5 separate regions of the Homo sapiens genome follow, and all the other regions are linked to region 3. Evidence: fine-mapped expression QTL. A gene starts in region 3. Each other region holds a variant in brackets. All regions are shown on one strand. Distances are between the middles of the regions.

Evidence for each region. PIP is the estimated chance that this variant, and not a neighbour inherited with it, causes the effect.
Region 1: its variant is the best candidate, but not a certain one, in a credible set for the expression of EXD3 in CD4 T cells (BLUEPRINT, PIP 0.89).
Region 2: its variant is the best candidate, but not a certain one, in a credible set for the expression of EXD3 in whole blood (TOPMed, PIP 0.71).
Region 4: its variant is the best candidate, but not a certain one, in a credible set for the expression of EXD3 in whole blood (INTERVAL, PIP 0.73).
Region 5: its variant is the best candidate, but not a certain one, in a credible set for the expression of EXD3 in cerebellum (GTEx, PIP 0.59).

What each region holds. Positions count from the first base shown.
Region 1 is chr9:137,594,925-137,600,025 of GRCh38, reverse strand. All of the region lies in intron 1 of LOC124902318 (a long non-coding RNA gene), which reads left to right. Among named protein-coding and RNA genes, the nearest start is that of ZMYND19, 7.0 kb to the right of the region's middle. The variant G/A (reference allele first, on the strand shown) is at 2,283.
Region 2 is chr9:137,356,241-137,361,341 of GRCh38, reverse strand. EXD3 (exonuclease 3'-5' domain containing 3) reads left to right here. Exons shown (of 22, transcript NM_017820.5): 8 at 4,974-5,074. Among named protein-coding and RNA genes, the nearest start is that of NRARP, 57 kb to the right of the region's middle. The variant A/C (reference allele first, on the strand shown) is at 2,979.
Region 3 is chr9:137,420,051-137,425,151 of GRCh38, reverse strand. EXD3 (exonuclease 3'-5' domain containing 3) reads left to right here and starts at 1,990. Exons shown (of 22, transcript NM_017820.5): 1 at 1,990-2,038. NOXA1 (NADPH oxidase activator 1) reads right to left here and starts at 1,759. Exons shown (of 14, transcript NM_001256067.2): 1 at 1,446-1,759. The coding sequence starts at 1,622. It also overlaps the pseudogene LOC124902354. RefSeq lists silencers at 1,529-2,088, 2,109-2,248, 2,259-2,398.
Region 4 is chr9:137,802,536-137,807,636 of GRCh38, reverse strand. All of the region lies in intron 18 of EHMT1 (euchromatic histone lysine methyltransferase 1), which reads right to left. Among named protein-coding and RNA genes, the nearest start is that of MIR602, 33 kb to the left of the region's middle. The variant C/T (reference allele first, on the strand shown) is at 2,246.
Region 5 is chr9:137,319,191-137,324,291 of GRCh38, reverse strand. It overlaps EXD3 (exonuclease 3'-5' domain containing 3), which reads left to right. Exons shown (of 22, transcript NM_017820.5): 18 at 149-202; 19 at 436-567. Among named protein-coding and RNA genes, the nearest start is that of NRARP, 19 kb to the right of the region's middle. RefSeq lists enhancers at 2,703-3,336, 3,337-3,971, 4,606-5,101. The variant C/T (reference allele first, on the strand shown) is at 2,497.

The DNA of each region.
Region 1 (5,101 bases), 170 kb before region 3:
CGAGTAGCTGGGACTACAGGCACCCACCACCATGCCCAGCTAATTTTTGTACCTTTAGTAGAGACGGGATTTCACCATATTGGCCAGGCTGGTCTCAAACTCCTGACCTTGTGATCCACCTGCCCCAGCCTCCCAAAGTGCTGAGATTACAGGCATGAGCCACTGCGCCAGGCCAACACTGCAACCTCCGCCTCCCGGGTTCAAGCGATTCTCCTGCCTCAGCCTCCCCAGTAGCGGGGATTACAGGCATGCAACACCATGCCCGGCTTATTTATTTATTTATTTATTTATTGAGACATAGTCTTGCTCTTGTCACCCAGGCTGGAGAGCAGTGGCACAATCTCAGCTCACTGCAACCTCTACCTCCCGGGTTCAAGTAATTCTCCTGCCTCAGCCTCCTGAGTAGCTGGGACTGCAGGCATGTGCCACCACGCCCAGCTAATTTTTTTTTTTATTTTTAGTTGAGATGGGGTTTTACCATGTCAGTCAGGATGGTCTCGATCTCTTGACCTTGTGATCCCCCCATCTCGGCCTCCCAAAGTGCTGGGATTACAGGCGTGAGCCACCATGCCCTGACAATTTTGTATTTTTTTTAGTAGAGATGGGGTTTCTCCATGTGGGTCAAGCTGGTCTCGAACACCTGACCTCAGGTGATCTGCCCATCTCAGCCTCCCAAAGTGCTGGGATAACAGGTGTGAAACACTGCGCCTGGCCCCAAAAATTTTTAAATATGGCGTTGACTTTGGAACCATGCAGCAGGAGGGGTCATGAGAAAGTTGCTATTGCAGGCTGGAGAAAGTGTAGACTATTTACCTTCCAGCAAGACCATTGCCTGTGGAACGTGGCGGACAGAAAGTGCATGCTGTGATCTGACTTTCCTGACATAGAGTTTAAAGGGCCAATTGACTTCTTTCAGTTATTTATGAGAAAGTGAAAGTAACAAAAGAAAGATGATCTGAATAAACTCTCTTGGCCCGGCACAGTGTCATACGCCTCTAATCCCAATGCTTTGGGAGGCCAAGGCAGGAGAATTGCTTGACCCCAGGAGGTCTAGGCTGCAGTGAGCCGTATTTGCACCACCGCACTAAAGCCTGGGAGACAGAGGGGGACCCTTTCACCCCAGAAAAAAAAGAACTTCCCCAAACTCCCACCAACACACCTACTAGCCTTTCTAGAACCTTCACATTGGCTACTGCCAAGGTGCACCGCCCTGTCCGACACAGCTCGTCATCCCCTCTCCTCTGCAGCCAATGCCTCATCCCTTTCCACCATCGTCCCCATGGGTGAACATCAGTGCCATGTCCCCTGCACCACGAATGTGCTCCTGACCTCCCCCCTCTTCCAGCCTCAGCTCCCTTCACTGCTCCTTTTCAGCAAAATGCTGCAGAAGAGCCGTCCATCTCAGCCTGCAACTCCTGTCCCTCATTCCTTCCGACACCCTTGGACATCTTCCCTCACCCCTCCACTGGCACTGTACTTCTCAAGGTAACGGGGGTCCCCTGTGTTGCTAAATCCATTGATTCATCCCCAATCTTCACTTTACCAGACCCAGCAGCAGCTGGGGCTGCCTTGCAGGCCTTCCTCCTACTTCACATCTTTGTTTTCTACTGAGTCCTCTTCTTTCCAATCTCTTTCCCCCTTAGTATGATAGTATTAAGTATCCCTTCTCTTTTTTTAAATGATACTCAATCTAGCATTTTAAAGAAATGTAATGTGCATTTTTTGCTGTTATAGTCATAATACATAAACTTCAATAAATACCATAGAACTTTTAAAAACTAAAAATTAACTTCCCGGCCGGGCGCGGTGGCTCATGCCTGTAATCCCTGCACTTTGGGAGGCTGAGGCGGGCGGATCACGAGGTCAGGAGATCAAGACCATCCTGGCTAACATGGTGAAACCCCGACTCTACTAAAAATACAAAAAATTAGTGGCGGGCACCTGTAGTCCCAGCTACTCCGGAGGCTGAGGCAGGAGAATGGTGAGAACCTAGGAGGCGGAGCTTGCAGTGAGCAGAGAGCGTACCACTGCACTCCAGCCTAGGCAACAGCAAGACTCTGTCTCAAAAAATAATAATAATAATAATAATAATAATAACTTCCCATACTTTTCTGATAAAGATTACAACATACTTCAAGCACATGACTGTTTTTACTTAAAAAGTGAGTTTTATCTTTTTCTTGTTTACTTCACATACTACACTGATGTAAATATCCTTTTAAAAATTTTATTTTGGCCGGGCGCGGTGGCTCACGCCTGTAATCCCAGCACTTTGGGAGGCC[G/A]AGGCGGGCGGATCACGAGGTCAGGAGATCGAGACCATCCCGGCTAAAACGGTGAAACCCCGTCTCTACTAAAAATACAAAAAATTAGCCGGGCGTAGTGGCGGGCGCCTGTAGTCCCAGCTACTTGGGAGGCTGAGGCAGGAGAATGGCGTGAACCCAGGAGGCGGAGCTTGCAGTGAGCCGAGATCCCGCCACTGCACTCCAGCCTGGGCGACAGAGCGAGACTCCATCTCAAAAAAAAAAAAAAAAAAAAAAAAAATTATTTATTGAATGTAAACTTTTATTATTTTTTTGGATATAGTATCTTCCTCTGTCGCCCAGGCTGGAGTGCAGTGGCATGATCTTGGCTCACTGCAACTTCTGGGTTCAAGGGATTCTCATGCTGCAGCCTCCCAAGTAGCTGGGATTACAGGTGCCTGCCAGCACACCTGGTTAATTTTTGTATTTTTAGTAGAGATGGGGTGTCTCCATGTTGGTCAAGCTGGTCTCGAACTCCTGACCTCAGGTGATCCGCCCTCCTCGGCCTCCCAAAGTGCTGGGATTACAGGTGTGAGTCACCGCCCTGGCCCTAATTTTTGTTTTTTTAGTAGAGGTTTACAAACAGGTTTCTGCCATGTTGGCCAGACTGGTCTTGAACTCCTGACCTCAGGTGATCCACCCACCTCGGCCTCCCAAAGTGCTGGGATTACAGGTGTGAGCCACCACACCCGGCCTAACTTTAAACTTTTACTTTAGGTTTGGGGATATGTGAGGTTTGTTACATAGGTAAACACCTGTCACCAGGTTTGTTGTACATATTATCTCATCATCCAGGCATTAAGCCCAGTATTATTTTCTTCTTCGTGTTCATAAGCTCTCATCATTTAGCTCCCACATGTAAGTGAGAACATGTGGTATTTGGTTTTCTGTTCCTGTGTTAGTTTGCTAAGGATGATCGCCTCCAGCTCCATCCATGTTCCCACAAAAGACATGCTCTCATTTTTTTATAGCTGCATAGTATTCCATGGTGTATATGTACCACAGCTTTTTTTTTTTTTTTTTTTTTTTTTGAGACTGAGTCTCGCTCTGTCGCCCAGGCTGGGGTGCAATGGCGCAATCTCGGCTCACTGCAACCTCCACCTCCTGGACTCAAGCGATTCTCCTGCCTCAGCCTCTCAAGTAGCTGGGATTACAGGCACACACCATCACGCCCAGCTAATTTTTGTATTTTTAGTAGAGATGGGGTTTCACCATGTTGGCCAGGCTGGTCTTGTACTTCTGACCCCAGGTGTTCCACCCGCCTCAGCCGCCCAAAGTGCTGGGATTACAGGCGTAAGCCACTGTGCCCGGCTGTACCACATTTTCTTTATCCAATCTGTCACTGATGGGCATTTAGGTTTTTGTTTGTTTGTTTGAGATGGAGTCTCACTCTGTAGCCCAGACTAGACTGCAGTGGTGGCATGATCTTGGCTCACTGCAACCTCCACCTCCCGGATTCAAGTGATTCTCCTGTCTCAGCCTCCCAACTACCTGGGATTACAGGCAACTGCCAGTACACCCAGCTAATTGTATTTTTAGTAGAGATGGGATTTCACCATGTTGGCCAGGCTGGTCTCGAACTCCTGACCTCAGGTGATCTGCCTGCCTCGTCCTCCAAAAGTGCTGGGATTACAGGCCTGAGCCACCGGGCTGGCCAGCATTTAGGTTGATTCCATGTCTTTGCTCTTGTGAATAGTGCTGCACTCTCTACATCCACGTTTTCCCTCATGGTAATCTCATCCAGTTTTATGAGTTTTGCCATGGTTTGAATGCTTGTGTCCCTCCAAAATTCAGGGTCTCACTCTGTCACCCAGGCTGGAGGGCAGTGGCCCCATCACAGCTCACTGCATCCTCAACATCCCCAGGCTCAGGTGATCCTTCCACCCCAGCCTCCCAAGTAGCTGTGACTACAGGCATGGGCCACTATGCCTGGCTAATTTTTGTTTTTTGTAGAGACAGCATCTTGCCATGTTGCCCAGCCTGGTCTCAAACTCCTGGGCTCAAGCGATCCACCAACCTCAGCCTCCCAAAGTGCAGGGATTACAGGTGTGAGCCACTGCACCTGTCTCTAAGAGAGCTTTAAATATAATAAATGTGCTAATGATGCCAAACTTTTTTTTTGTTTTTTTGAGACAGAGTCTCACTCTATTGCCCAGGCTGGAGCGCAACGGCATGATCTTGGCTCACTGCAACCTCTGCCTCCCAGGTTCAAGTCATTCTCCTGCCTCAGCCTCCCGAGTAGCTGGGAATACAGGTGCGCACCACCACATCCGGCTAATTTTTGTATTTTTAGTAGAGACAGGGTTTCACCATGTTGGCCAAGCTGGTCTTGAACTCCTGACCTCGTGATCTGCCCGCCTCGGTCTCCCAAAATGCTGGGAGTACAGGCGTGAGCCACCGCGCTCAGCCATGATGCCAAACTTATATTCCCAGGCTGGACATCTCTGTGAACTCTATACTCACATATTCTACTTATACATTCAACTGCCTTGTAACCTTAACATGTAGCATAAGTAACACATTTTTATTTGGCTAAGCCGCTGAGAACTTGGGGTTGTTACTGCAGCATACCCAGGCCCATCCTGACATACACACCCCTCCACCACAGGTCCAAACATCACCACTTACCAGGAGAGGTCGAGTGTCCCTTATCCAAAATGCTCGGGACTAGAAGTGTTTCAGATTTTGGATTTTGGACTCTTTGTATTATACTTGCCTGATGGCGCTTTCCATATCCAAAATCCAAAATGCTCCAATGAGCACTTCCTTTGAGTGTCATGTCAGTGCTTACAAGGTTCAGA
Region 2 (5,101 bases), 64 kb after region 3:
GAAAACTTTTCCCTGTAATGTGTTCAGGTGGCCCTTCCTCTGCTTTGTGTGAGTTCCTCACACGCAGGGTGCTCTTTACTTGGGCGAATTCTCAAGGGCGCTCCCTGCAGAGCTCCACAGCTCTTTTTCTGGGCATCTCTTCTCTGCGAACTCAGGGAAGCACCCAGTGTCTCCTGGGTTCCCCTTCCCTCGCATGTTGCTGGAAGTTTCTCCAGGAGGGAAGATGGAGCGATTGGCAGCCTCGCTTCCCATCACTCGGGCATCACTGCCCTGAGCCACCTGTTGCCTAATGTCTGAGAACTGCTGTTTTTATTCAATACTGTACCAAGGACCCATGCCAGGCGGGAAGGCAGGAAAATAAGTGCAAAGACCGGGTACAAAGAAACAACTGTCATTTTCTCAGAAGATATGTTTTTATATGTAGGGAAGGAAAACCAAAAAATCTACAGATAAATTATTAGAATTAATAAGTAAATTTAGCAAGATCACTGGTTACAAGGTAAGTTTATAAAAGCCAATTGTATTTCTTTATACTTGCAATAAAGCTTTCTCAAATAGGATATAAAATCACTAAGAATAAAGGCTGGGTGCGGTGGCTCACACCTGTATTCCCAGCACTTTGGGAGGTTGAGGCAGGCGGATCACTTGAGGTCAGGAGTTCCAGACCAGCCTAGCAAACATGGTGAAATCTCGTCTCTACTAAAAATACAAAAATTAGCTGGGCATGGTAGCAGATGCCTGTAGTTCCAGCTACTTAGGAGGCTGAGGCAGGAGAATCACTTGAATCTGGGAGGCAGAGATTGCAGTAAACCGATATCGTGCCATTGCACACCAGCCTGGGTGACACAGCGAGACTCCATCTCAAAAAAAAAAAAAAAGAAGAAGAAAAGGAAGGAAGGATGAAAGAAAGAGAATAACAGAAGAAGATTGACAAATTTGACTTAATACCTTCTGGACGTCAAAGGAAATCATTGAGAGAGTGAAAAGGCAACTTCCAGACCAAGAGAAGATTATTTACAGTACATATTTTACAAAAGACTGTATCCAGAGTATTTTTAAGCAAAAAACCTACAAAGCAAATAAACAATAAAAGACAAAACAAACCAAGTTTTTAAATGAGCAAAAGCCTTGAATAAGCACATCACAAAAGAGGATATCCAGATAGCCAATGTAGGAAAAGTTGCTAAGCACCATTAATATCAGGGAAATGCAAATTAAGCCACAAAGAAATACCACCACCTCCCATCAGGAAGGCTAAAATTTAAAAGTCGAACATACCAAGTGGTGACAAGGACATGGAGCAACCAGAACCCTCACGCACTGCTGGTGGGATGTGCACTGGTGCAGACACTTCAGAAAATTATTTAGCAGTTTCTACTAAAGCAAAAAAAGTATGCCAACCCTATGACATATGTTGTCCGAGTCCACTTAGCATATGCCCGAGAGAAATGAGCTCATTATCCACAAAAGATCGCAGTCATGGCAGCTTAATCATCATCTGTGAAACACGGGAGCAGCCCTAGTCCCCAGAGCAGCAGTGGATGCAGTGATCACGGTTCACAAACTCAGCTGTGAGAGACTGAACCTCGTCACACTCAGCAGCGTGGACAGAGACTGCATGGAAGAAGCCAGATCCAAAAGTGGCAAAGTGTCCCTATTCTATCATTCCATTTGCATCAAGTTCAAAATCGGGCAAATAATCTCTGGCCATAGAAGTCAGAGAAGTGTGGGATGGGGATACACAGAGATGGACACGGGAGAAACTTTGGGGTGCTGGAATGTCCTTTATTTACATTTTACTTTAGAGACAGGGTCTCACTCTGTTACCCAGGCTGGAGTGCAGTGACACAACCACAGCTCACTGCAGACTCAACCTCCTCGGCTCGAGCGATCCTCCTGCCTCAGCCTCCCAAGGTGATGGGATTACAGGCGTGAGCCACCGCACCTGGCCTGGAACGTTCTATGTTGAGATTTGGGCAGTGGGTTTACCGGTGCATTTGCACCCATGATTGGCATACCTTACCGTGTGTCACTTATACCTCAGTAAATAGTTTATCTTAAAAAGTAGGCCTTGGCCGGGCACGGTGGCTCACGCCTGTAATCCCAGCACTTTGGGAGGCCGAGGCAGGCAGATCATGAGGTCAGGAGATCGAGACTAACCTGGCTAACACAGTGAAACCATCCTGGCTAACACAGTGAAACCCCATCTCTACTAAAAATACAAAAAATTACCCAGGCGTGGTGGCGGGCGCCTGTAGTCCCAGCTACTCTGGAGGCTGAGGCAGGAGAATGGCATGAACCCAGGAGGCGGAGCTTGCAGTGAGCCGAGATGGCACCACTGCACTCCAGCCTGGGCGACAGAGCAAGATTCTGCCTCAAAAAAAAAAAGTAGGCCTTGCCAGGTGCAGTGGGAGGATCGCTTAAGGCCAGGAGTTTGAAACCAGCCTGAGCAACGTGACAAAACCCCGTCTCTACAAAAAATACAAAAATTAGCCAGCCGTGGTGGGGCATGCCTATAGTCCTGCTACTCAGGGCTGAGGTGGGAGGGTCACTTGAGGCCAGGAGGTTGAGGCTGCAGTGAGCCTTGATCACACCACTGCAGTCCAGCCTGGGGGACAGAGTGAGATCCTGTGTCAAATATATACATTTAATTTTAAAAAAGTTTTAAGTAGGAGTTACAGTTTAAAGTGGCAGTTAAACACAAGCATCTATTGCCTCTTTGCTTTAAAATGAAGACAAAAATTTCAAGAGAATAAGAGGGGAGACGGGAGCTGGAACCCGGAAGACAGATGTCCAGGCAGCGACTGTCCTCGGAGGCCTGAGAGTGCTGAACCTGCAAATGCAAGGAGCCAGTTGGCTTCGGAGCCCCCGGGAGGCACAGGAAGTGGAGGCCCAGATTCCTCCAAGAAGCTGGGCTGGAAACAGGGTCTCCAGGGGGTCTTTGTGAGCGGCACGGTGTTCTGGCCACAGCTGAGGAC[A/C]GGGCTGGGGCTCCGTGCTGAAACCAGGAGGACACAGGTGAGACCCTTGCTGGAGGTGCACAGACGCTTCTCAGCCCACAGCACCTCTGGCCTTCCAGGGCTACCAGGCCACGCCGTGCACACAGGGAGGTGGTTCCTCTGCAGGGCAGTGTTGGGCAGGAGCAGTTAGGGCTGTGGGGCCTCTCGCCAGCCACACGCATGCTAACACTAACACACTGGGATGGTTAACACTGAGTGTGAACTGGATTGGATGGACAGATGCAAAGTATTGATCCTGGGTGTGTCTGTGAGGGTGTTGCCAAAGGAGATTCACCTCCGACTGAGTGGACTGGGAGAGGCAGACGCACCCTTAATCTCAGTGGGCACCGTCTCATCAGCTGCCAGCAAGGCTGGAATATAAAGCAGGCAGAAAAACATGAGAAGGCTAGATGGGCCTACCCTCCCAGCCTACATCTTTCTCCCATGCTGGACGTCTCCTGCCCTCGAACATCAGACTCTAAGTTCTTCAGCTTTGAGACTCGGGCTGGCTCTCTGTGCTCCTCAGCTTGCACATGGCCTATTGTGGGACCCTGTGATCGTGTGAGTTAATACTTAATAAACTCACCTTTATATATATATACACATATATATATATCCTGTATATAATATATATATGTATATATATCCTATGAGTTCTGTCCCTCTAGAGAACCCTAATACAGACACTAAGCTGGAGCTTGGAGGAAGCAAAAGAAACCTTAAAAGCACAAATGCTGTAACTAAGATACTGCGTCTGTGAAGTGGAGATGGGGGCCCCACAGAAAGAGCTTTCAGACTGTAGGACAGAACTTGGTGGATGAAGGACAGGATGGGAAATGAAAGCTCAGTGGGAGGTTTGGAAATAATTTGAAGTTGTCTTCCAAAAAGCAGTACAAAATACATAAAGAGAAGGAAAATCAAAGAGAAAAGATGTTTAAAATTGGAGATTCTGTCAAGAAGGTCCAACATACAAATAACTGGGATTCCAGGAAGAAGGGAGAGCAGGGAAGGAAACTCCTAAGTAATTCATCGCTGACAGGTTTCCAGATGTGAGGCCACGGGAGCCCCCACAGGAGCCGGACTTAACAGGTTTGTGGAGTGGCCAAAGGTGGGTGGAGAGAGACCCCCTGTGGGGCACGTTGTCATGAAGTTTCTCAACACTAGTGAAAATGGAAGAGCCTCAAAACCTCCAGAAGAGCAGGCCACATCAGAGGGGCAGGAATAGGAATGGGTTCTGGGGTCTCAACAGCAGTTCTGGGAGCCAAGCCTGCCTGTGCTAAGGGAACGTTATCTCAACCCAGAAGTCTTGGCTCCACTGAACTCTCAAGCTGGTGTGCAGCGGGCACAGACCCTGGAGGTGCACATCTCCAAAAATACCCCGTGGACCTTATCTTGGGAAACACCCAGCGGCTGTGCTTCACCACTACCTGGAGGTCGGAGGGTGTGGACCAGGGCATGGGGGTGTCAGTCCCAGGACCTTGCAGGGCAGGAGCTAGAGAGTGGCTGGAGGGGCAGGAGGAGCCAAGTATCAAGGGACCAGGATGGGTAACTGAGAAACAACAGAGCCAGATAAGCATTAACCCTGAAAGCAGCAGCAGAAGGCTGGGCCGTTGAGGCCGTTGCACAGCCAGAATATCACCAGTGAGGAAGGTGCTGATTTAGCTAAAACTCTAATACTGTTATTTCGGGAGTCCACCTTCCGTGGGGAGAAGTCAATACCAAATACCCAGAAGTCAACAATCAAGAGATCACAATCCAAGGATGTTATCTGGAAATGTGGAGGCAAATACACAACCATTTCAATGTCGACCTCCAAGTGCTAAGGATGGGGTGGGCGGGGGGCGGTGACGCCTGCATTTTCTTATAAACCTCACTTGAGGTTTAAACTATGCATGCATATGACTATGATGAAAATGAAAATCTTAAAATGTATTAACTTAAAACAGCAACAGAGGCTGTGCCTCTCTCTCCCCACAGACGGTACCCTGAGGTGACCTCCTTGAGCCTGGAGAAGCTGAGTCCGAAGGCGCTGAGCAGGCAGGTCTTGCGTCTGCAGGAGCGGTACGGCGTAGCCCCAGGTGAGTCCAGCCCCCACATTCCTGCCC
Region 3 (5,101 bases):
GAACCAAGTTCACACAGGTGTGAAGTGTGGCGGCTGAGCACAGGCACGCAGCCCTGATGTGGGGTGGCGGCTCAGGGCCAGCAGAACCCACCTGTCTGCCCCAAACGTCACGCAAGGCTCCTAACAAGAGACAGCAGTTCCAGCGACACCCTCTGCACCCTGGGCTGCCCCTCACGTGATCGGCTTTATGAATCATAGCTGTTCCATCTGCTTTCCTAAGTTCCCATATTCCTAACATGCATATGCTGTGGGTTAGTCGTATGACTTTCACTGCGTCCCCTCTCTGTAGTGAAACCAGGCACAAGAGCACAAGTGACTGGGTTAGCCCCGGACATAGGATTTGTTGCTGAACCACCTGGTGTCTAAAGATTACATTCCCTTTCTTGGATAACATTTTAAAATGAAATCATTGTGGGCCGGACAAGGTGGCTCACATGTGTAATCCCACCACTATGGGTGGCCGAGGAGGGTGGATCACCTGAGGTCAGGAGTTCAAGACCAGCCTGACCAACATGGTGAAACCCGTTTCTACTAAAAATACTAAATTAGCCAGGCGTGGTAGTGGGCGCCTGTACTCCCAGCAACTAGGGAGGCTGAGGCAGGAGAATTGCTTGAACCCGGGAGGCAGAGGTTGCAGTGAGCCAAGATTGGGCCACGGCACTCCATTCAGCCTGGGTGACAGAACGAGACTCCATCTTTGAAACAAACAAAAAAATGAAATCATTATGGAGGTGATTGTAAATTTGTACGCAGCTTTAAGACACAAGAGAGGGGGGTCTCATGCGCTTTGCCCAGTCTCCTCCAAGGGGGATATTTTGCCAGTCAGGGGCGTGGAGACCCTCCCACAGCGCGCAGTTCCCTCTCCTTTAAATCACTGCTGTCACCGAGCCTTCAGTAACCGTGGGCACCTGCCTGCTTCTGCGGGGTGCTTGGGACTGAGCGGGGGTGGGCAGCGCTGGCGTTTGGGATGCGCAGGAACAGGCGGCCCCGGAACGCGAGGGGGCACGAGAAGGGCACCGGGCTCCGTGCAGGGCCTCGGCCGCTGCACCCTGGCACCCTGGACTCCTGGCTGTTTCGGGGAGTGGGCTGGGGGAGGGCTGAGGGCTCTGAGGAGGAGACTGACCCGGTCTCCCGGCCATGACCACAGGCGCAACGCTTTCCCCTTAGGGCAGGGCGGTCCCTCGGGCCTGACCCAGCCCAGCAGCTTCCCCCTTCCCGGTGTGAGTCACCCTCGGGCCCCGGCCTCTCCCGGTGACCGCCGCGCCCCCCAGCGCGGCCTCGCTTAGCTCAGGTGCGGCCCCCCTGCTCGGCTCCCACCTGCCGGGGCGTTCGCTGGGTCGGGGGCGGCAGGGCGACCCCGTGACGGTCGGGGAGGGGCGCTGGGCCCTCCCCAGGGGCTCGAGGCGGAGGCGTCGCCCGCACCGGCCTCCCCACGCCCCGCTCACCCGCAGCGCGGCCTCGGGGTCCCCGGCCAGCAGGTGCACGCAGCCCGCGTTGAAGCACAGCCTGGCGGGCGGCGCCGGGACGCCCGAGAAGAGGTGCAAGGCGCGGGCCCAGTCCCCACGATCCACAGCCTGCGCGCCCAGGTGCCAGGCGCGCACCAGGTCCCCCAGAGAGGCCATGGCGGCCGGTGGCGGCGCTCGAGGAGGGGCCAGGATCCCGCGGAGGGGCCGGGGCCGGGGCCAGGCGGCGGCGCGGGGCTGCGGGGTCTCCGAGGCGGGCAGAGGTGCGGGCGCCAAGCGCCAGGTGCAACCCCGCTGCCCCGCGGCGCCCCCTGGCGGCAGGCGCCCGCCCCTCCCCGGTAAGGCCACGCCCCCGCCAGAAACGGCTACGCCCACTCCAGACCCTCAGGCCTCGCCCACCTCCCATTCGGCCCCCGCCCCGGCCGGACTTCCGCCGGGAGCTTTGTGCGCCCGGCTTCCTCGCCCCGCCCGCGCTGGCCTTGGTGCGCCGGATAAAGCCCTCCGGGCCAGCGGCTGCGGTCGGGCCAAGGTTCCGCGCCGGGCGTGGACGGTGTGGGGCGGTCCCGGCCCCGCAGGTGAGCGACCCCGGGCCGCGCGGGCCAGGTGGGCGGTCTGGGCGCCGGGGGCAGAGCGGGGCCGGGCCGGGTGCGCGTCCTGAGGTGAGGGCCGTAGCTGGGAGTGAGCCGGGGGCGGGCCGCCGGCTCTCCCGGGGTGGGGAAACTGAGGCCCCGATGGGGCGGGGAAGGTGCGTTCTCCCGCAGGGCCCCGCTCCGGAGGCCGCCGAGCAGCCGGACGCCGCGGGGAGCTGAGCCGACCCCGGCGACCCCGCCGCCCTGTCCCGCAGGGCCTGCCCTCCTCCGCGCCTTCCGAGCACGGACATCACAGGACCCGGAGGCCCTTCGCTCCCTCGCCGAGGAGGAGGCGCTCCCGGTGGGACGCGCGCGCGCCCGCCCTGCCCTCCCCGGGAGAAGGGACGGGCGCCTCCCTGCAGGGGCCCTGGCTTCCTGTCCACCGGCGCTGAGTCCTGTATTAGTTGTCAACCTAAAATAATTAAAAGGGTCAGAATGTGGTGCCCGGTGGGTTTATTCAGGCACAGAGGTCGAGGGCGGCCTGGGTCACCAGGTGCAACGGAGAACAAAACAGAGGCTCAGGTTTTTAAAGAAAACAGAGCCCATCGGAGAGCAGGTGGTTTCGAACGTTGCCCAGGAGCTCACTGGCTTGTAGAAATGGCATTGGTTCGCGATTGACCACGGCTTGGTGTCATCAGTGGATAGTTACTTGGCTCGAGGGGTAGTGAGGGGCTGCGGTTTCATTTGAAATGCTTTCTGGCACTTAACATCAAGCTTTCTGGGCCCACAGTTTAAAAGGGCTTTACATTCCTCAGATAAATGATTTTTTTCTTTCTCATTTGCCCCCCTTTTGATCAAAATCTTTCTTCTTGAAAGCATTGATTATCAAAATCTGAGGGTCAGAGTGTCCCCTCTTGCTGGGAAGGCTCATTCCCACATAGTCCTGTCCCATGCCAAGCAGGGAAGGAGGAGACATTTCAGGGAGTTTTTTTTTTTTTTTTTTTTTTAAGAACACCACAAACTGAATTGGAATGGCATTACAGGGTGGCAAACATGAGGTCTCAGTGAAGTCATTAATTTATACAACTGCTGTCACCTGTTGAATCATCTCTAGTTTTTAGAAACACCATTAATTTTAATTTTCTCAGAAGTAACACATAGGACTATAACCAATTTGTATGCCAGGATGAAAAAAACAAACCTGTTCCATTAGGGAGACAACTAAAAACATGAAGAAACTAAAATCCATGTTCTTCTTTCTTTTTATTTATTTGTTTACTTAGAAATGGGGTCTTGCTCTGTCACCCATGCTGGAGTGCAGAGGCACGATTCCCACTCATCGCAGCCTTGAACTCTTGGGCTTAAATGATCCTCTTGTCTTAGCCTCCTGAGTACCTGGGAATACAGGTGTTTGCCACCAGGACCGGCTAATTTTAAATTTTTTTGGTAGAGACTAGGTCTTGACACCTTGCCCAGGCTAGTCTCGAACTCCTGAGCCCAAGTGATCCTCTCATCTGGGCCTCCCAAAGTGCTGGGGTTATAGGTGTGAACCTCTGCCCAGCCAGGTTCTTCTTTGAGACTTGTAGCCAGAAGATTGTTCAGGATTTAGTCCAGATTGTAGGAAAATAAAAAATACAATGATCAGGGCTAGAATCCAGTAACAGGTATGCTGTAGTTTTTCTCTGAAACATAATTTTTCTCTACTTCCCCATTTCTACCAAAGATAAATCTTGGTAAGACCAATTTACTTGTAAAATAAATTTTAGGATTATATTTGGCCTGATTATTTGCCTAAAGTACAACAGTGGTGATTGGCCATATAGGCTCCTTTCTAAACTGGCTGGAACTTTGCCATAAGGAATTTCAGACTTTTTTTCCCCACATCAGACAGGTAATGTGCTGGCGTCATAACAGCGTTTGAAGGAGACAGACCCTACACATGAGGCAATCATCATGCTTATGAACTACAAGAGGGTCAGAATAGACCTTTAAAAGCCACTTGAGGGCTGGGCATGGTGGCTCATGCCTGTAATCCCAGCACTTTGGGAGGCCAAGGTGGGAGGATTCATTGAGCCCAGGAGTTTGAGACCAACCTGGGCAACATAGCGAGGTCCCTGTCTCCACAAAAAATTTAAAAATTACCTGGGCATAGTGGTGCTCACCTGTAGTCCCAGCTACTCAGGAGGCTGAAATGGGAGGATCGCTTGAGTCCAGGAGATTGAGGCTGCAGTGAGCTATGATCGCACCACTGCACTCCAGCCTGGGTGACAGAGCGAGACCCTGTCTCTAAACAAAACAAACACTTCCCATGTCTAGGAAGCCAAGCCAGTGGCTCCCCATCACAGTGTATGTATAATACCTGTATGAATTTGGGGGGGGGGGTGAATGTCTGTCCTCCAGGTCCCAAACTATCTTGAAGTTCCTGGATCTGTCGGAAAGTGACATTCTTTCCTTACCTCAAGGCCAAGAACCTTTTAAGGGAACTATGTAAACAGGGCACCAGTCCAGTCATCCCAAGGGGCTTTTTATTGGCTCTATAAAGCGAACCTCGATTCCTCAAAGCAGTCTCGTCATATCCAAAAATACGTCATCCCAGTCCAAGCCTTGGTAGAATAACCAGGGTCTCCAATTGTGTCCTGTTACAAGGACAACAGATTCTTACTGAACTCATGCAAAGAACTACATTGCCATAAAATAAGAATACTCATGAATCGCTTCCAGATTTTTGAGAAATCAGGTAGAGAAAAAGACAAATATTTCAGTTTTGCTCACAAAAGTATATGTCACTCAATTGCTATAGCTATAAATAGCTCAAAAAGAAAAAGGTTTTCTGACTCTGGAAAACAAAATATAAAAAGAGTCAGCAAGGTTTCGATAACAACAAAAAATCATAAAAAGCATTTCAGGCCTCTATCAGTTCAGTTCTATGTAATTTGCTGGGGTTTTTTTTGTTTTTTTTTTAGGCGGAGTCTCCCTCTGTCGCCCAGGCTGGAGTGCAGTGGTACAATCTCGGCTCACTGCCAGCTCCGCCTCCCGGGTTCACGCCATTCACCAGCCTCAGCCTCCCGA
Region 4 (5,101 bases), 380 kb before region 3:
ACTCGGGAGGCTGAGGCAGGAGAATGGCTTGAACCTGGGAGGCGGAGGTTACAATGGGCCAAGATTGCACCACTGCACTCCAGCCTGGGCAAAAGAGTGAAACTCTGCCTTAAAATAAACAAATAAATAAATAAATAAATAAATAAATAAATAAATAAGTAAATAAAGCCATTGGTATAACTGTATTCTATAGGTTCGAAAGTTAAGTAGAAACATGTTAGGAAATGTTTGAAAGACTCCAACAGAACTTTTAGAGCTGAAAACGACAATGCCTAGAATGTAAGCACACAGACCGGATGAGCTCAACAGCATCACGTGCAGAAGAAAAGATGAGTGGACTAGAAGACAAACCAACAAAAACCTGCTCAACTGAAACACAGAGGGAAAAAATAATAATTTAAAAATTGAAAAGAGCACCAGTGAGCTGTGGAACCACTCTGAGAACTCCTACATACACAGCTGGAATACTGGAAAGCGTGGTGGGCAGAAAACATTATTTGAAGAAATAATGACTGAAAAATTTCCAAATTTGTCAAAAACCCTAAATCCACAGATCCAAGAAGCTCAATGAACCCTACGTGCACACACACAAAATAACACCAAAGCACTTCAGTAATCAAATTGCTTTACAGACAAACTAAGGCTTAGAGGAAAATCCAATTGCTAAAACCAAGAGATACAGAAAAAACATTTTAAAAGCAGCCATATAAAAAAGACACATTATACACAGAGAAATAACTGTGTGGTGGCACTGGATTTCTCACTGCAAACACTGCAGGTGAGGACCCAGGGAAACCGCCATTTAAAGCATTGGAAGAAATAACTACGCATCCAGAATTCTAAGAATATCTTTCAAAGATGAAAGCAAAATAAGGACTTTCCAGGCATTAAAGAGCTGTAAGAGGGCTGGGCACAGGGGCTTACGCCTGTAATCCCAGCACTTTGGGAGTCCGAGGCGGGCGGATCATGAGGTCAGGAGTTTGAGACCAGCCTGGCCAACATGGTGAAACCCATCTCTACTAAAAACACAAAAATTTCCCGGGCGTGGTGGCCAGCGCCTATAATCCCAGGTACTCAGGAGGCTGAGGCAGGAGAATCGCCTGAAACCTGGAAGAAGGCGGTTGCAGTGAGCCAAGATAGCACCACTGCACTCCAGCCTGGGTGAAAGAGCAAAACTCCATTTCAAAAAAAAAAAGCTGCAAGAGCTCATCACAAGCAGACCAACACCACAGAAAAGGTAAAGGGAGTGAGGCCAGCGGAAGGGAAGCAACATCAGGAGCATGAGCCCACCAAGGTGGAGAAGCGTGGCAGGGACAGGGATGGGGATGGCAGGAGCAACTGCAGAGCTCTTCTGCAGTCTTTCAAACAGACCACTCGGCTGGGCGTGGTGGCTCATTTCTGCAATCCCAGCACTGTGGGAGGCCAAAGCGGGCAGATCACCTGAGGTTGGGAGTTTGAAACCAGCCTAGCCAACATGGTGAAACCCCCATCCCTAATAAAAATACAAAAATTAGCCAGGCGTGGTGCCATGTGCCTGTAATCCCAGCTACTTGGGAGGCTGAGGCAGGAGAATCGCTTGAACCAGGGAGGTGGAGGTTGCAGTGAGCTATCGCACCACTGCACTCCAGCCTGGGTGACAGGGTGAGACTGTCTCCAAAAAAAAAAAGAAAAAACCAGGCCGGGCACAGTCGCTCACACCTGTAATCCCAGCACTATGGGAGGCCAAGGTGAGTGGATCACGAGGTCAGGAGTTTGAGACCAGCCTGACCAAGATGGTGAAACCCCGTCTCTACTAAAAATACAAAAATTAGCCAGGCGTGGTGGCTCGTGCCTGTAATCCCAGCTACTCAGGAGGCTGAGGCATGAGAATAGCTCGAACCCGGGAGGCGGAGGTTACAGTGAGCCAAGATCATGCCACTGCATTCCAGCCTGGGCGACGGAGCAAGACTCCATCTTAAAAAAAAAAAAAAAGACCACTGACTGTTTAAACAGAATAACTACATGGCTATTATGGTGTTCAGAACATATATATGTGTAAAATATAGGAGAATAGCAGTATCAAGTTTGGGAGGAGAAAAATGATTTTGCAAGACCTACTGTAAAGCTACATCAGTCAAGAAAGGACAGTACTTGCCTAAAGGCAGATATGCAGATCAATGCATCAAAAGAGAGGGCCCTGGAGCTGACACACACATCTGGACGACTGACTTTACACACATGTGGACAACTGACTCTGACATGTGGA[C/T]GACTGGCTCACACATGCGGATGACTGATACATACGCAGACAACTGACATGGATGACCAACTCATACATGTGGACGACAGACTCACAGACATGCAGATGACTGACTCATACATGCAGATGACTGACCCTTACATGTAGACAACTGACACACATGTGGACTGACACATGGACGACTGACAGACATGCAGATGACTCACACGTGGACGACTCACACGTGGACGAATGACACATGCAGATGATGGACTCACACATGCGGATGAGAGACACACACATGCAGATGACTGACTCACACATGCAGACTCTCACATGTGGACGACTGACAGACATGTGGACTGACACATGTGGACGACTGACAGACATGCAGATGACTGACTCACACATGGACAACTGACACATGTGGACACACATGCAGATGACTGACACACATGGACGGACTCATACATGGATGACTGACAGACATGCAAATGACTGACACATGTGGAATAACACATGGGTAACTGACTCACAAATGCAGACAACTGGCTTTTGGCAATGGTACAGAGTCAATTCTATGTAGAAAGAATGGTTTTCTCAACAAATGGCACTGAACTAGGCATCCATAAGCCAAAAAAAAAAAGTTCAATCCATACCTCACACCACATACAAAAGTCAACTATAATAAAACACAGACCTAAATGTAAACCCCCAAACCATAAAACTCGTATAAGAAAATGTGGGAGAATATCTTTGGGTTCTCAGATTAGGCAGTGATTTCTTAAACAGAACGCCAAAAACAGGATCCAGTTAAAAATAAAGAAAAACGTTGATAAACCAAACTTTATAAAAACTTTTAAAATTCTGCACTTCCAAAGACAGATCTGTAAACCATATATCTGATAAAGGACTTATATCCAGAACATGAACTCTTAAAACTCCAGAATACCCAATAATAAGCAAGAAAAATATTTGAACAGACACTTCATTAAAAAAGATATATGGATCGTAAATGAGCCCATAAAAAGATGCTTAACATCAACTGTCATTAGAGAAATGAAATGAACTGAAAACTAAAACCACAAGATATCACTACACACCTATTAAAATGGATAAAAGTTAAAGACTGACCATGCTAAGTGTTGGGAAGGATGCGGAGGAACCAGGACTGTCTGATATGGGTTGGCTCTGTGTCCCCACCCAAATCTTGTCTTGAATTGTAATCCCCATGTGTCAAGGGAGGGACCTGATTGGATTATGGGGGTGGGTCTCCCATGCTGTTCTCATGTGAGTGAGTTCTCACAAGAGCTGGTTTTAAAGTGTGGTACAATGCTCCTCAATCTCTCCTGCCACCATGTAAGACGTGCTTTGCTTCTCCTTCACCTTCTGCCATGATTGTTAAGTTTCCCGAGGACCCCCCAGCCACGCTGAAGGGTGAGTCAATTAAACCTCTTTTGTTTATAAATTACAGTCTTAGGTAGAACCCTGATAGCAGTGTGAGAACGGATGAATGCACTCTCATACACTAGAGATGGTACAATCACTTGGAAAGCAGTTTGGCAGGTTTTTTTTTTTTTTTTTAATTTTTGAGACAGGCTGGGGTGCAGTGGTGCGATCTCAGCTTACTGCAGCCTTGACCTCCTGGGCTCAAGCGATCTTCCCACCTTAGCCTCCCGAGTACCTGGGACCACAGGTGTGTGTCACCATGCCTGGCTACTGGCAGTCTCTGAAAATGTTAAGCCTAGACACCTGTCATATGTTCTAACCATTCTACTCCCAGGGGTTTAATCAAGAAAAATGAAGGCATGAGTATTCACAGCATCTCTCTTAGTAACCACCAAAAATCAGAAACAACCTAATGTCCACTGATAGGTGAAGGGTAAACAGACACATTCACACAATGGGCACTTCAGGCAACGAAAATGGGGATCTCGGCTTAAGGACGCGAGGGAAAGCTGCCCATGGTGAGAGCCCTTTTCTATAAAACCGAGACACGCAGACAACAGAAAGCCCAGCAATGGGTGGCAGGGGTGGGCTGGGCATGGCTGTGAAGCGCGGAGGATCACCTGAAGATCATCAGGGCATGAGGGAGGACTGGGCTCACTCTTCCGACAGCAACAATGGCTTCTGGGTGAAAATTCACCCAAGTGTGTACTTTGAATATATGCAGCCTACCTATTATACAGCAATAAAGTGGTTAAATTAATGAAGTGTTTCATTGTATAAATAACAAACTTGAAATTTAATCAATGCTTCCATTCTGGGGGAACAGCCACCAGCATCAGAGAGCTAACAGCTCTGACACCTGGACAGGCTGCAAACTGCCCAGGCATGCAGGCCGACCAGCCACACTAGGGCCGCCTTCCCCGCCACGCAGTCTCCGGGGGCGGTGGGTGAGGTGGCCCCACCTGGGGGTGGCCTCTGCCTTGTTCTCTGCCTTTGCTTCCCTCCTCTCTTCCTCCAAGGTACCCGCCACAGCCTTCCACCAGCTCAGGGCTCCTCTGCTTCCCTCTTCTCTTCCTTCTGCCGGCTCAGGGCTCCTCTCTTCATGGTGCCGTCATCCTAACCCGCAGTGGGAAAGAACTCCGGTGGAATGAGGTAGAAACCCCCTGGATACAGTCATGGAAGCCCTGCAGCCCACGGAGGAGGCACTGCAGCTCAGGACCAGTCACTCCAGAGAGGCCTGCGTGCCTGCAGGGAGGCAGCGGGTGCCCACAGCCAGTGGTCCCTGTTTCTAGGTGGGAGGTGGGGTCTGCTTACATGCAGCGAGGGGTTCCAAATGCAGACCTCCCCGTGCCAACAATGAATGGCAAGGGCCCGTGCCCACGCCGTTCTCAAGCTCTGAGAGGAAGTGTCAGCCCTCCCTCCTCAGACACCAGACTT
Region 5 (5,101 bases), 100 kb after region 3:
CAAGACCCCAGGCAGAGGCCACCCTGGAGGACAAAAGGGGCCTGGGGCAGGGCCACGATCCGGGGAGCTAGGGGGTGGCGAGCAGAGGTGGCCCAGTCCAGGAGCACGGAGCTGCCCCCTTTATGTGCTGGTCGCACCTCCCACACAGGTTGCCAGGCAGGAGGGGAGGATCATTCTGACGTCGGGGCAGCCATTCCACAAGGTGAGTGTCCCAAAGATAAGCTCAGTGGGCCTGAGCCCCATCTTCCCAAGCCCCCAGCCCCTCGGCCACCCCCACCTCAGGGTCAGCTTGCCGTGGGGCCGACCCCCAGCGCCTCTGCCGTACCCCTGGTGGGCCGAGAGAAGGCTCCTGCCCCATGCTGGCGGAGGCGGGCTGGGCCTGGGCAGGTGCTGGGCTCTGCACTGCCCCTCAGTAGCCGAGCCGTGTCTTTGCAGCTCCGGGCCCAGGTCGGGGCTGGGCGCTGCCTCTCGGTCGACTGCTCCCTGAAGGCCCAGCAGCAGGCCAAGGCTGTGCTCAAGCATTTCAACGTGCGTGTCACCCACGCAGACATCTTCAGCCGCTGCCAGGTGGGTCCTGCGCACCCCGTCCTACCTGGGGCTGGCACAAGATCTGGAGCTACGGGGGTGTCCAGGGAGGTGGGCCCCACCCTAGACAGTGGTGGGTCTGGGGTGGGGTGTCGGCAGAGCATCCCTCGTGGTCCAGGGTGAGGTGTCGGCAGAGCATCCCTCGTGGGTCCGGGGTGAGGTGTCGGCAGATCATCCCTCGTGGGTCCGGGGTGAGGTGTCGGCAGATCATCCCTCGTGGGTCCGGGGTGGGGTGTCGGCAGATCATCCCTCGTGGGTCCGGGGTGGGGTGTCGGCAGAGCATCCCTCGTGGGTCCGGGGTGGGGTGTCGGCAGAGCATCCCTCGTGGGTCCGGGGTGGGGTGTCGGCAGAGCATCCCTCGTGGGTCCGGGGTGGGGTGTCGGCAGATCACCCCTCGTGGGTCCGGGGTGGGGTGTCGGCAGATCATCCCTCGTGGGTCCGGGGTGGGGTGTCGGCAGAGCATCCCTCGTGGGCCCGGGGTGGGGTGTCGGCAGATCACCCCTCGTGGGTCCGGGGTGGGGTGTCGGCAGATCACCCCTCGTGGGTCCGGGGTGGGGTGTCGGCAGATCATCCCTCGTGGGTCCGGGGTGGGGTGTCGGCAGATCACCCCTCGTGGGTCCGGGGTGGGGTGTCGGCAGATCACCCCTCGTGGGTCCGGGGTGGGGTGTCGGCAGATCACCCCTCGTGGGTCCGGGGTGGGGTGTCGGCAGATCACCCCTCGTGGGTCCGGGGTGGGGTGTCGGCAGAGCATCCCTCGTGGGTCCGGGGTGGGGTGTCGGCAGAGCATCCCTCGTGGGTCCGGGGTGGGGTGTCGGCAGAGCATCCCTCGTGGGTCCGGGGTGGGGTGTCGGCAGAGCATCCCTCGTGGGTCCGGGGTGGGGTGTCGGCAGAGCATCCCTCGTGGGTCCGGGGTGGGGTGTCGGCAGAGAATCCCTCGGGGGTCCGCGGTGGGGTGTCGGCAGAGCATCCCTCGTGGGTCTGGGGTGGGGTGTCGGCAGAGAATCTCTTGGGGGTCCGGGGTGGGGTGTCGGCAGAAAATCCCTCGGGGGTCCGGGGTGAGGTGTCGGCAGAGCATCCCTCGTGGTCCGGGGTGAGGTGTCGGCAGAGCATCCCTCGTGGTCCGGGGTGAGGTGTCGGCAGAGCATCCCTCGTGGTCCGGGTTGAGGTGTCGGCAGAGCATCCCTCGTGGTCCGGGGTGAGGTGTCGGCAGAGCATCCCTCGTGGTCCGGGGTGAGGTGTCGGCAGAGCATCCCTCGTGGGTCCGGGGTGAGGTGTCGGCAGAGCATCCCTCGTGGGTCTGGGGTGAGATGTTGGCAGAGAATCCCTTGTGGGTCCGGGGTGAGGTGTCGGCAGAGAATCCCTGGTCCAGGGTGAGGCGTCGGCAGAGCATCCCTAGTGCAGGCTGGCATGGCCACGGGGACAGCTCCAATCAGGCATTGGCTTGGATTTGGGGAATTCCCTCTGGCTCCCATGGGGCTTCTAGAAGGAATCGAGGGAAATTGTGGAAGTCCCTTCAGGCTGGGTGGGTCCCACTTTCCAAAGGCAACACGCAGGACAGCCTGCGTCTGCTTGGTGACGTCTAACAAGGTCTGGGCAACAGAAGCCCTGAGTGGGAACTGCCGCACCTCGGTGGAGATCCATAGAGGAGGCTGGTGGGGGCACCAAAGCCCAACTCACCTCTCTCCCTCCTCTCCTGTCCCCAGTGGGGGACTGGGCTGAGGCACCTGCCCAGGGCTGCACTGTCCAAGCTTGCTATGCCCCACACCAACTGGCACCTGGGCATGGCCAGTCTGGGGGGAGTTGATGCTGCCTTTTGCGCCTCCACTCAAGGCGCCAGGGTCTCCGTGGGCGACACGGGAGCAAGGGGGACTGTGGGCTGTGCTGGCTCTCGGCAGTTCCCGGTGGAGGGTA[C/T]GGGCTGCTTCCAGAACGTTCCGCAGTTAGGGCCACATCAATATTCCGCCTGGAGCAGCAGGTCGGGGCTGCTCCAACAAGCCCAGTTTTGTTTCCTGGGGTTTTTTGGGGGTGGGACGGAGTCTCACTCCATCGCCCAGGCTGGAGTGTAGTGATGTAATCTCAGCTCACTGCAGCCTCCGCCTCCCAGGTTCAAGCAATTCTCCCACCTCAGGCTCCTGAGTAGCTGGGATTACAGGTGCCCACCACCACGGGCGGCTAATTTTTGTATTTTTAGTAGAGACAGGGTTTCACCATGTTGGTCAGGCTGGTCTTGAACTCCTGACCTCAGGTGATCTTCCTGCCTCAGCCTCCCAAAGTGCTGGGATGACAGGCGTGAGTAATCCCAGCCTCCCAAGCCCAATTCTGGGGGAAGTTTTGGGACCCCCTCATGGAGGGAGATCCCCTCATGGAGGCCACTGTCAGGGTCCCTGCTGGTGCCTGGGCTGGGCAGGGAGGGGCCCTGAGCTCAGCTCCACCCCATGGTCCTCAAGGGCACCCACCTGGCTGAGCAGAAACAGATGCAGGCCTGCGCCTTCTGCTACCGCCCTTCTGCCCCCACAGCCTCAGGCTGGGCCTGGCGGGGATTGAAGCAGGAAGGAAAGAGGGAAAGCTCCGGCTCGGCTCGGATCTGCAGCCGGCCAGGCACCTGTACACACAGGCCCCTGGACCTCCCACTGCCCCTGGCCTGGGGGTGCAGTCTGACCCTCTGACCCCACTGCCCTGCGGGGACCGCGGCCTCTGCCTCAGGTGGCAAGGAAGTGTGCTCCAGGGGCCTCTCCTGCAGCCTTGGGCTCCAGGGGCGGCAGGAACCGCGTCCGCTGCCTCTCTTTGTCTGTGCTCAGGCCAGCAAGCGCTGTAAAGACCCCAGGATGTCCGGGACGCCTGGGGAGGCATGTTAATGAGCTGTTCAGAATCGGCTGCTGCATTTTCTTGAGAAAACAGGAAGTTGGGTAGCTGGGAGGAAACCCCTGCTGGAGCCCTGGCCAGCCGGGTGCTGGGGAGTGCCCCTGAGGACCCAGGCCAGGCATGGAGGGGCCGCCAAGCCCTGCATGGAGAAGGGTGTCCAGGGTGTGAGGCAGAAGGGCAGACTTTGGCCTGGCTGAGTGGATGGGATGGGGGCGTCGGGGGCTGAGCAGTGGGGGCCGCCCTGACCCATGTCCGCCCTGCCTCTTTGCTGGCTACTGGCAGCTCCAAGCTGCTGATGCCACTCTGCCACCCACACCCTGCAACCCCCAAGCTGCCCCTGCTGTGGCAAGCAGGAGCGCCAGGCCCAGGGGGGCTGCAGGTAGAGCAGGCCTGGGAGGGGCTAAGGCCAGAGCTGCACCCCCGTGGGGGGCCAGCAACTGTCCAGGCTGGAGAGGGCAGCGCCAGCTGTCCAGGACCAAGGCAGTGAGGGAAGGAGCATCTGGATCTGAAAGACTGCAAACAGCCGGCGGGGAATTTGGCCTGGAGGGTACCCTGGGCCCTGGCTGCAGCCCCAGGCAGCGACCTGCCACCTGTGCCAGCCCCTCTGTCTGGGGGCAGGACGTGGGGAAGGGGCGGGGGGGCTGCCTTGGCCCCACGGACTGCCCGGCCAGGGGCCTTGCAGACATATGCGTCTCTGTGTGCACATCCCGCAGATGCTGGGTGGTGTGCGGTGAGGACAGAACCAAGCGTTCCCCCTGCCCGCCCCGGCCTGGGAGCAGAGCACATGCTGGCAGCCACACCAGAACCTGAACCCCCTGGTGCAGGGCTGGCAGGAGCGGGTGCTGGTCCATGCAGAGCCCCACGTGTATGCGCCACATGCGGCCTCAGGTCGGAGCCCAGGTGGGAGGGAGGCCCTTGTTGGGGCTGGGGACCCTGCTGGGCCCTAGCAGGATGCCCTTGGGCAGGTGACAGAGAGCTGTTGGGAGAGGGCCCCCCATGTGCACAAGGGTCCCTCAGGGCCAGTGCGATGGGGCCAGGAGAGCAAGAAAGGGGTCTATGAGAAGCTGAGATGTCTACATTTGAAGCCAGCCTTCCAGGTCACCAGGTGGGAGAATGGAGCTTGCTTTGCACAAGTGCCTCAGCCGGGTGGTGGCCCAATGCCCACAGCCCAGGGTCCCATGTGCGCACCCGCCTCCTTGGCTCTGGAGTCCCGAGAGGTGCTCAGGGCCTGGAGGGCCAGGGCCCCAAGCCACACATCCGTGATGACCATGTGCTCTAGAAAGTTCTTCCTAGGGCTGGGCAGGCTCAGGCCACGTTCCCACCACCCACTCCAGCAGCACTGCAGCCTCAGTGCTCCCAGCTGAACCCTGGGAGCTTGGCCTGAGCAGGCAGCTGGGAACACCACTGATCGGCCACCCCACACACTGGCTGCCCCATCCCTACCCCAGAGGTGAAGAGAGGCCCATCCTCAGGGCCAAAGAGGTAGGCACGGGCAAAACAATGGAGGCCGGGCCCCGGGACCACGCAGGCCCAGCTCCACGCAGCTGCAGACCCCGGGCCTGCCACCGCAGCCACAGTGCAGGGCTCGGCTGGCTATGACCCATCTGGACACCAGAGGGCTGCTGGCCATCACTAGCCAGCAGAGAGCGGCACGCTC